Linked DNA regions of Homo sapiens. The protein of the gene in region 3 interacts with the protein of the main gene of each other region in a pairwise test. Each region holds a gene or a part of one and is shown on either strand. Other genes may lie near its edges.

What was found.
Region 1: the proteins of MSGN1 (region 3) and CCDC172 interact in binary tests that used the Homo sapiens proteins (3 or more experiments, as listed by UniProt).
Region 2: the proteins of MSGN1 (region 3) and DNALI1 interact in binary tests that used the Homo sapiens proteins (3 or more experiments, as listed by UniProt).

The regions. Positions count from the first base shown.
Region 1 is NC_000010.11:116,327,338-116,330,992, reverse strand, and holds part of CCDC172 (coiled-coil domain-containing protein 172), read right to left. Parts: intron 1-3,655.
Region 2 is NC_000001.11:37,559,873-37,563,527, reverse strand, and holds part of DNALI1 (axonemal dynein light intermediate polypeptide 1), read right to left. Parts: intron 1,972-3,655; coding exon 1,793-1,971; intron 1,448-1,792; coding exon 1,283-1,447; intron 1-1,282. UniProt on the Homo sapiens protein: Involved in sperm flagellum assembly.
Region 3 is NC_000002.12:17,814,832-17,818,325, reverse strand, and holds MSGN1 (mesogenin-1), read right to left. Parts: upstream 1,867-3,494; 5' UTR 1,808-1,866; coding exon 1,226-1,807; 3' UTR 528-1,225; downstream 1-527. UniProt on the Homo sapiens protein: Involved in specifying the paraxial, but not dorsal, mesoderm. May regulate the expression of T-box transcription factors required for mesoderm formation and differentiation.

The DNA.
Region 1 (3,655 bases), on a different chromosome or scaffold from region 3:
CAAAGTGGGAGGATCACCTGAGGCCAGGAGTTCAAAACTAGCCTGGGCAAAATAGCAAGACCCTGTCTCTAGAAAACAATATATTTTTTAAATTAGCCAGGTAGGGTGGCAGAGGCCTGTAGTCCCAGCTACTCAGGAAGCTGAAGCAGAAGGATCACTTGAGGCCAGGAGTTTGAGGTTGCAGTGAACTGTTGTTGTGCCACTGAGCTCCAATCTGGGTAACAGAGTGAGACTCTGTCTCTTAAAAATAAATAAATAAAAACAAAAAATTAAAAAAGAAGATAGCTGGACTCTCATATCTGCTTCTACTCAATCTTTTGTAATACGTTTTTCAGTTGGAGAATACGGAGTGCACAGATATGTAGTTGGAAATGATTGTGCATATTCTTCTTTGATACTATATCAAAATTCACCATGTGGTAGCTCCTTAAAGGTTAGTTGCAATGTGGAATCTGAAGCCGTTTCAATGAACTTTTCATTCTATGTTATAATAAAATCCATTGGTCTACATTGCACTTTGAGTCTACCTTTTATCTATGCACAGTTTTGTAACTTTATGCATTACTTACTGCTTCCCTGAATTATGCAGATCCTCCAAATGTTGATATATTTCATAATATGCTTTGAAAAGTAACATTCTGAAACATCTTGAAACATACTGCTTCAAAAGTAACATTCATATTCATTAATATCACTAACGAACTCACCAGAAAAATCTTTAAGTACCAGGAAGCTGCCAAGCTGCCAAGATAGATAGGAATCCTCCAAAATTCTAATTTTTGTTTGAAAGCTTGCATATTATCATTGGCAAAATAATAAGAAGAATGTCAGATGTTTGCCTTGACATTTTAGGCTTACTTCATTTATTTTTCAGAAAATTTTGCCAAACACCCAAATCTAAATAACTACAACTTGACTGTCAATTATCTAAGTAAAAATGGCGTTTCAGAAAAAGAATAGCTAGCTCATACTGCATCTCAAACAACTGCACACATGCTCTCTCTTGAGACAATCGTGGCACTTCGGAATATAAAAGTACTTTAGATGTACCACCCATGTGATCGTACACAATATTGAAAATGAATATACTCAATGATCAGTTCCAATAAAATTAATATTTTTGACACTTCAATCAAAACATTAAGTAAAACTAGCGGTTTTTGTTTTCTTACTGAGAGTGCATGGCAGTGAAGAATACGAGATGACTACTAGTACAGTTTGGTGCCACCACCTCGATTTGTGTTAAGGTGCTAAGAGTTTTACTCACTGCTGCTTTTGCACTGTCAATGTGTGCATTAACATAGAGAAGATGGCAAATGGTACCTTTGTATAGTATTATCATAAAAATAGCTTGACCTTACAAACTCCCTGAAAGTGTCTTGGGGACCCCTTTGAACTCAGAGATCACACTTTAAGAATAATGCTCTAAGGTGACAACTGAGCAGAGACTTAGGCTAACCAACCATCAAGATTTGCATGGGGCTGTCCTAGTGTTAGCACTAAAAGTCCCACATGATTCTACTGGGAGAGATCTAAATGAAGTGAGCGTGCATGACAGAATAACAGCTAATGGAATCAGCATTTCAAGCAGAGGAAACAGCAAGTGCAAAGGCCCTGGGGTCAAAGAATGATTGGCATATCCAAGAAAAAACAGCCCATTACAAAGGTTCACACCCCCATAAACCTGACTGTCCTCAGGAAGGTGAGCTACTGGACAATGTCTAATACAATACTCAAAGGACACTCAGTGACCTTTTTTGCCTATTTCCAAGTTTTGGATAATTACTCATGACAAACATGATAAGGCTTTCTTTATAGAATTTCATAGAGAAAATGGAAACAAATTTTTTCTTTAAATGAGAACTTCAAAAATTTTGAGTTTACAGTTAGGTTTATATAGTTGAAATTGCTTGATGTCAATCCTGTAATTCAGGAAGGAAGGTGTTATATAATTTATTTGCCAAGTATTCATAGTGTGATTTAGCAGTTGCTCAATGAATGTTTGTTGAATGAATAATTGCCAACTATAAAATTAAATATTGGTAGGATCTAAATTTTTTTGATTAAGTGTAAAGAAAGAAAAAAGCACTCCAATTACAAAACTCCATTTCAATACTATAAATGATAATAATTTGTGATTTTGTTCTTTCTCCAATTAGGTAATACAGTACTAAAGGATATGACTTTGCCTGCTGTTCTGGAGGTTTCCTAACTTTTACCAATTAAAATAAAAGAACACATACATATTGAGGTAAAGAAGTAAATGGGGCCACCTTAAGTTACTTTTTAATTTCAATACAATTTTCCTTTAAAAATTCATGAAATATTCTTTTATTATTGTTATGGTGTTTACACAAGTTAAAATTGGAAACAGAAAAAATAAACAAAATATTCACAAAATAGCCTCAGATTTTCCTCCATTTACTCCCTCTTAAGGGAATATGGCATTATATTGAGTTTTATGTAATATGTTTATAAAAATTAAATGTCAAAATTTTAATTATATGCCATTTTTAAAAATAGAAGAAGCTCTTTTAGATGTTTAAAAGAAACTACCAATGTTCTGTCAGTCCTTAATTTTGGTTTGCCCTGTCATCAATACTATACAACTTTTCCTTAACTATCAGAAGTTTTGGATGTATTGGTAAGCATGAATGCAAATCCAGGGCATGTTCTCATTTTTCTGTTTTCATATTACCAAACCTAACCAGGCATAGTGTAGCTGTCCAATTCATAAAGTACTCATACTATATAACCTGAGACTTTTGCAACCATATATTTTAAAAGACTCATTGAGCCCTGCAAGGCAAATGCTATCATTCAAGTTCTAATTACATGCTATCCGGGTTTTACATAAAAGAAAAAAAATGAATACTGTACTTCCCAAATACATTTATTGACCAGAAACAACATCCAAAATAAATGCCCCCCAAATTTTCTGAATGTATGACTGTACAATAGCTCAAGCACTGCTCTATTCAAATTATGTTCTATTAATAGTTTCTCCTTGTGCTGCTACTGTTTGATAAATGGGTCAATAAATGCCAAGTCAAATATTCAAGTAAATATATTTTCATTGTTATTGGCAGACATATAATTAACTCAGAATAAAAGAAACAAGAAATCAATTTAGGATTAGTTCTTCAGTTCTTCCCATTAGTCATATGCATTATAATTGTGATTCCACTTTTAAAATCTTTATGCACATATACATACCATCTTGACTATAATACAAATCAAACTATTTCAGTTATAAATTAGTATTGTATGAACTGTGACCCTCATATGTTAATTTTATTAGTAAGATACAAATGTATTATTACCCACATATATGAGCTGGTTAAAAAGCAATGCATGCTTATGAACCTATATTAATTAGTAATTTCAACAAATGTTTCTAAACAATGGTAGGCCTTTTCTGTCTTCTTTCTAGTAAAAACAACTGAATCAACATTTTTTAATGTATGTGTATATATCAACAAATTACATTTCCATTTGCAGACAAAACAAAACTTTGCTAACAAAGAAAATATTACAGAGTAACATTAAAAAATATATTATATCAGGTCAATATCCTCACCAATCCAGGAAAAATGCATTTTGTACAAAAACTTGTATAAGCAACCTTTTAAAAATATTAACCTAAACAAGATAC
Region 2 (3,655 bases), on a different chromosome or scaffold from region 3:
CAAGAGCAAAACTCCGTCTCAAAAGAAAAAAAATTTAAAAATGCCAACTTCTAAAGAATCTTTCACCCTGGAGATTACAAGATTGCTTTTAAATGTTAGAAACATGCTAAGGTATTTGGTTTGCTCTTGTTGCTAATCCAGGAAGAACTGAGGAACTCAGGCTTATGAAAAAGGAATATGGCAGTTAAGGAAAGCAGCCTCAGAGGCTGCTAAGGAAACAGATTCATCTCTGGCTGTGAAAGTTTCTTGCTTTTCTTTGTGCAACAAGAAAAGTTCCAGTAGTGGTTAACAGAAAGCCTTCTTTATCGCAAATGGCCAGTCCTGCTGGTGTGTAGACCAAACAAGCCTGCAATGTCAAGATTGTAAGGTTTCTATCTGAGCCTAGGGAGGAGAGGGAGATCCATCCAGGGTCCTTTGGCCAGGGCCATGGGAGAAGGCCACTAAATGTCAGTAGGCCATCTTTCCAGAACAGTGATGCTCAAACTTCTGCAAACATTAGAATCACCTGAGACCTTGTTAAAGCACATTGCTGGACCCCAACCCCGAATTTTCTGATTTGGTAGATCTGGGGTGGGCCCAATAATTTGTCTTGCTTTGCCAGGTGAGGACGATGTTGATCTAGGGCCTACCTTTTGAGACCTTTGGACCAAACAGCTGGGAGTTGCAGTGCCTGTAGCATGGCCTCCTGCCCAGCTTTGTCCACCAGCCCCCTCCCTCCTATCACCTCAGCTGGATAAAAGACCACTGCTGGCATCGGACTTCGAGGAAGAGCACCTGTGCCTGGGTTCCCCGACCACATTTCTGGGGAAGGTTTCTGATTTGAAATGGTTCTTCCTCTCAAAGGGCCCTGCTGCCCTTTGACTTCTTCCCTGGTTATGCCCTGAAACAGGGCCTCAGAGGAGACAGCCATGGGATGGCACTACCACGCAAGCCACCTGGAGCCCAGCCCCCTCCAGAAAGGCTCCAACATACCAGCTTCCAGGGGAATGGAGTTCCACTTTTTGCCATATCCACCTCTTCCTTGAGGATGGGCAACTTTTTTCCAGGGAGAAGAATCCTCCACTGGAGAGCCAGGCTGAGGCGCCTCAGAGATTTGGAGTTGAGAGTAGAGACCCCCTCTGGAGCCCTCCCCTTCTCCCACCACCAAAGTCAGCTTCCTTTATCCTTTGGCAGTGCATGTGGACAAACATTTAAAAGCCATGGAAAAGGAACCGAATGCCTGGCCTGTGGGGCTGGGTCGCAGGGCAGGGGGCACCTCCACCCCACCCTGCGCGTTGATTACCTTCAGCTGCTGATTTGTTCGCTTCAGGAACTGAATCTCCTCATTGTGCTTCTTCTCCTCCACCTGCCGCCTCTCGCTCTCCCGCTTCTCAGTGGCTTCACATTTTGCCTTCTGCTCGTTCACTTGCCTCTCCAGGTCTCTCTTTTCCGTCTCCAATTCTGCGATCTGAGGAGAGAATGCCCAGTCATCCTGGGATGTCGCCAGGTGAATGGAATGGTGTGAGCCTGGGTGGAAGGGACATGGGACATGACATTGCCAGGGTATATACTGCCACCCAGTGGGAGGTCAGTGCCTGGCATGGAGCGTCTACAGCGGAAACAACTCTGCCAAGACCACCAGGCTGGCCATCATACTCAACCAGGGGTCCCTCACTGAGGTGATGCAAGTCCAGGTGTCGTGACTGTCAGCAGAGCACCTTAGGAGGTCAGAATGTAGTGCTGGAATGATAAGCATGTGGCCCTGAGGTTTACAGAAGAGATGGGACCAAGGGTCACGGTAAACCCCACTCACTTTCCTCTCCATGTCTGACTTCCCCTGCTCAGCCTGCAGTGCCTTCCTCATGCCAAACGCCACGCTGCTCTCGTACAGGGTCTGGTAGGCAGCGATGGTCATGCGGATCTCGTCCCGGACTCGCAGCAGCAGCAGCCCCCTCTCCGCACAGTTGATGGTGACCTCCCGGATCAACTCATCTTCCAATGCACACACACCATGAGATCAGACAGGGCGTGGGGAGGGGGCTTGCAGTATGTCTACTGCAAACACCCTTCCTCTTGGGAAGGACATTAGGGTGTTCTCGCTTGGAGACAAAGTGCAAGGCCTCAGAGAAGGGCCTCAGGGAGGGTGCCTTCAGTGGCCCAAAGAGCCTTGCCATGCAGTCACTCCTCTGAACTTGGCACTTGTGAGTAGCACAGTCAGCAAGACTGGGTTGGCCAGAGCAAAGGAGACAAGAGGCTCTGGTTTGTTTACAGCACTGGGTCCCCTCCCTTCCTGCCTTAGGTAAAAACTGGTTACTACTCGAAAAAACCTGACTTTTTCTGTTTAAAGATGGCAGCTGTTTTAAAGCAGCTGGGACATCCTGTGTGCCCCCTTGGCTGCACTGGTTTGAGGGAAATGGCAGGGTCTAGAGCTTGCCCATCTATCTCCCCATAAATGCTGACCTGGAGGGCAAACCATAATAACACACGGATAGGGAAGCCTGCTAGACCCTGCAGCTGCCTGAGGGTTTGGAGGTGGTTTGCAGATCGGCGTCCATAAGAGCCAATGAGACTGGGCTGGGAGACAGCCATTTGACACCAGCACTCAAGGAGGTGCATCTTAAATCTCTCGTGTCTGTGGGTTAACAACAAATCACAATATTTTTCTGGACCAAGGGCCAAATATTGATGGATGGATGGATGGATGTAAATACTGAACATTAATCTTTCTGACTAAAAAATTAGCACATGCTTATTATAGAAAATCTTTGAAAAAACAGATGGAAGTTATCGTTTTACTCCAAACATCTGCTAAGGGGTGAGGAACTCAAGTTGCCAAGAATATAGTGGTTGGCAGCTGGAGGACTTGTAGAAGAGGCGGGGCTGGTGTAGGGAAAAGAAGGAGAGATCAGACTGTTACTGTGTCTACGTTGAAAAGAAAGACACAAGAAACTCCATTTTGACCTGTACCCTGAACAATTGCTTTGCCCTAAGATGCCGTTAATCTGTAACTTTGCCCCAACCTTGAGCTCACAGAAACATGTGATGTATGGAATCAAGGTTTAAGGGATCTACGGCTGTGCAGGATGTGCCTTGTTAACAAAATGTTTACAGGCAGCATGCTTGGTAAAAGTCATCGCCATTCTCCATTCTCGATAAACCAGGGGCACAATGCACTGCAGAAAGCCGCAGGGATCTCTGCCCTGGAAAGCCAGGTATTGTCCAAGGTTTCTCCCCACGTGATAGCCTGAAATATGGCCTGGTGGGATGGGAAAGACCTGACCGTCCCTCAGCCTGACACCCGTGAAGGGTCTGTGCTGAGGAGGATTAGTAAAAGAGGAAGGCCCCTTGCCGTTGAGATAAGAGAAAGGCCTCTGTCTTCTGCCTGCCCCTGGGAACTGAATGTCTCAGTATAAAACCTGATTGTACGTTTGTTCTGAGATAGGAGAAAAAACGCCCTGTGGCGGGAGGCGAGACATGTTGGCAGCAATGCTGCTCTGTTACTCTTTACTCCACTGAGATGTCTGGGTAGAGAGAAGCATAAATCCGGCCTACGTGCACATCCAGGCATAGTACCTTCCCTTGAACTTATTCGTGACACAGATTCCTTTGCTCACGTGTTTTCTTGCTGATCTTCTCCCCACTATCACCCTGCTCTCCTGCCACATTCCTCTTGCTG
Region 3 (3,494 bases):
CACCAATAGAAAAAAGATGATAGGAGACATGTACAACAAATACTAATGGTTAATAACCATAGGGAGAAAAATTCAGCCTTAAAAAATCTCACTAGTTTTCAGAACCTCCTTAATTCAAAGCCCCCTTTTCAATGTCCTGTGCCATTCAAATGAGCTAAACTGTGGGTGCTACAGATACCCACCCTAAGACAAGGCACCATGAAGAGTGGGTGTGTGTGTGATGGGTGCATGTGGGGGATCTGGAGTTGGGGGGAGGCAGATGGATAGGAGGGGAAGATGAAGAAGTAAATGCCTTTGGAGGGGTCAGAGATTGTTCAGTTCTAACACTGACCCTTTTAGTTATTCTTTATGGGATTCGAATCACTTTTTTTTTTTTTTTTTTCTGAGACTGTCTTTTTATTTGACAAACGGGTAAGTGAAAGGACTAAATAAGGTCCTGTTCATACCAGGCCCAGAACAAAGGACAGGGAGACCCTGCCCACCCAGCCTTGCTTCAGGTCCACCCTGAGGTGCTGTCTCCTCCTCCTCCTCCCCGTACCCTCCTTCCCTGTCACACAAGCTGTTTGCCTGTGAAGAGGAGGCTCTGGCTTTTGGAATCTTCACTGTCTTAACTTAGCCTGTCTGCCTGTGACTTTCCATTTATCATGACACCAGTGCCTTCCGCATTTAAGTGATTTTGGTCCCTGCAACAGCATGATTTCAGTCAAACACAAACACACACACATATACACACGAAATGAAAACAGGAGCACTAAAGCCCTTTACTTGGCACAAATCTTTCTAAATAAGAATCCAGATATCACACTGGATCCTATACAAAATACAGGTTTTGTTAGCAACAGAAGAAAAGGTCTCAACGCCAAAATGGCAAGAGATTAACACTTTTACATTATTGAAAAAAATGCATTTAAAATCACTGACCCTTTAAAATACCTTGAACAGACAGAGAAGGGCAAAATAATCTGTCTGTTTGCAAAGGATGAGCCTCCCAGATGGGTGGAAAAAACTGGAGGTGAAAGTCTCTGCTCATCTGGCAGGTAAGTGTTCTGGTGGGTCCAACAGGTTACATGTGAATTCCCTTAGGGTTTTTCAGATCACAAGATTATCAGGCTTACTACATAAAAATCACTCTACGCCGATCATTGTTCAATAAGATATCCAGGTCTTCAAAACTCCTCTACTCCTGCTCAGGAGGCTGGAACCGGTCAGTTTCCCCGGATGGAGCTCACGCGCTCTGGGCTCTGGGCTCTCTGCCGCGGTTAAGGAGGTCTGTGAGTTCCCCGATGTACTTGATGGTGTACTTGAGTGTCTGGATCTTGGTGAGAGGCTGGCCTCTCTGGCTGTAGACAGGTGGCAGGTAATTCCGGAGGGTGTGCAGGGCATCTGCCAAGGTCCTCATCCTGAGCTTCTCCCTCTCGCTGGCTTTCCGCCTCCGCTGGACAGACATCCTGACTTTGGTGCCCTTCTGGGCCTTGGGGCCACCACCGCCCTGAAGGTGGGTGGGCTGGAAAGCTAACATATTGTAGTCCACCTCTACCAGGCCACTGGCCCCACCGACACTGCAGCCTTCGCTGCCCCCACTGCTGGCCCCGCCGTGCTCACAGGGCAGCCCAGCCACAGCTGGACAGGGAGAAGAAGAATAGGATTCCAGCGATGGAGCCGGGGAAAGGCTCTGAGAGGGGGAGGCCTGATTCAGCTCAAAGGGCCCTGCCCTGTCCTTCCAGTCCCAGGAAGACAGCAGGCCAGGGCTGTCAGAGGAGCCCAAGCCATCCTCGAGGCTGAGGAAAGTCTCGCGCAGGTTGTCCATGCCTGCGAGACAGCTGCAGAAGGAATGGCTCCCTGGCAAGTGAGAAAGAAAATTCTGCCGCCTGGCCAGGGAAGAGCTCTCTTTTATGACGGTGGGGGAGAAGTGATGAAGTGGGAAAGAGGGCCGTGTAAAGAGAGTTCAAAGGAAAAACCAAAGACCAAGATGGAAAATGAACTCTTCAGGTGTCATTTTCTCCTCATTGATAATTAGCATCTTCCAGCTAAAATGTCTTTAAACAGAAAGGCCTCCAAGAGAAGAAAAAAGGAATTATCTTGTTGTAACTAAACCAATTAAGGCTGCATAACTAGACTTAGCATTGTGCTGTGGAACTCATTAATGAGGGAGCCAAAGAAAACAAACCTGGGGCATCCGCAGCAAGGAGGGGGTGGCCGAGGGCCCTGGTGGAGAGTAGCAAAGTGACCCGAGAGGGCCTCCATCCCCTCCACCAGGACCTGCTAGATATTTCAGCACAGTTGGGCTGTATTGTTGGAGAAGCAGCATGGTCTAGGGACAAGGTAACCCCTCTGGGCTTTGATTCCCTAATGTGTCCAACACAGAAAACAACAGCTCTTATTTCCTAGGGTTGCTGGGGGTGCCACACACATGAGGTACCCAGTGGATGCCACCTTAGTAAATTTCCCTGGGTCGTATAGAGTGCAGACATGCCCGGAACATGCCTACACTCAGAACGACAAAGGCCAGCAACTCCAGTAAGCCTAGAGCCTTAAAGAGCAGGAAACATCCTACCAGAGGCATAAAACCCTTGCTGTTACCGAGCAGATTTGGATTCCGCACAGCAAACAGATACTAGGAAACAGAAAACTCCCTTAAGCCAGGGACTTTGCAGAATACCTGGCATTTAGCCTAAGGAAAGTCTTTTTTAACAAACCCAGCTGCACCTTGTTTTTTGAAATGAGTCACACCTTGCTTTTTGAAATGTATGGAGGAAGTGTGAAATTAACTAGGGAGCCTCTTTTCCCCACCACAGCTCCAAATGCCACTGAATGTGTTAAGTTGGATGGTTGTGCTAGTTTGCTTCACTTCCTATATGCTCTGCTAGACCCTGGGTTTTGGAAAAGGGATCTCAGATTCCCCATTTGTCCCATGAACTTAATTTATTTTCCATGTAACTAATTCTACAAATTAGTATTAACATCAAGTCGCAGTGAGTTAAAGTGTAGAGTAATATTAACATGTCCTTTAACAGGTTATTTAAGTCCCCTTGCAATTATTGAAAATAAATGTCAATGGCCTAGTTAGAACATTTATGATATTTTTTAATTAGCAAGGCTCAAGGAAGAAAAATCTCAAGTAGGTAATCTGTAGAAGAATGCTCTTAATTTTACCATTTACTGAAGAACCCCAAGCCGGATTTTGAAAAATAATAATATTAATGACTGTAATAAATGTAACAAATGACTCTTGCTCCTTTTTCCTCTCTCTTCTCTCTTCCAATTCTTGTTGAGAAGCCCAGAATCTGCTGATACTATGCAAGGAATTTTATATATTTTTTAATTTTTCTTATTTCAATAGCTTTTGGGGTAAAATGTTTTTTTGTTACATGGGTGGGTTGTATAGTGGTGAAATCTGAGATTTTAGTGCTCATGTCAACTGAGTAGTGTACATTGTACCCAATATGTAGTTTTTTATATCCCTCACTCTCCTCCCACCCTCCCCCTTCTGAGTC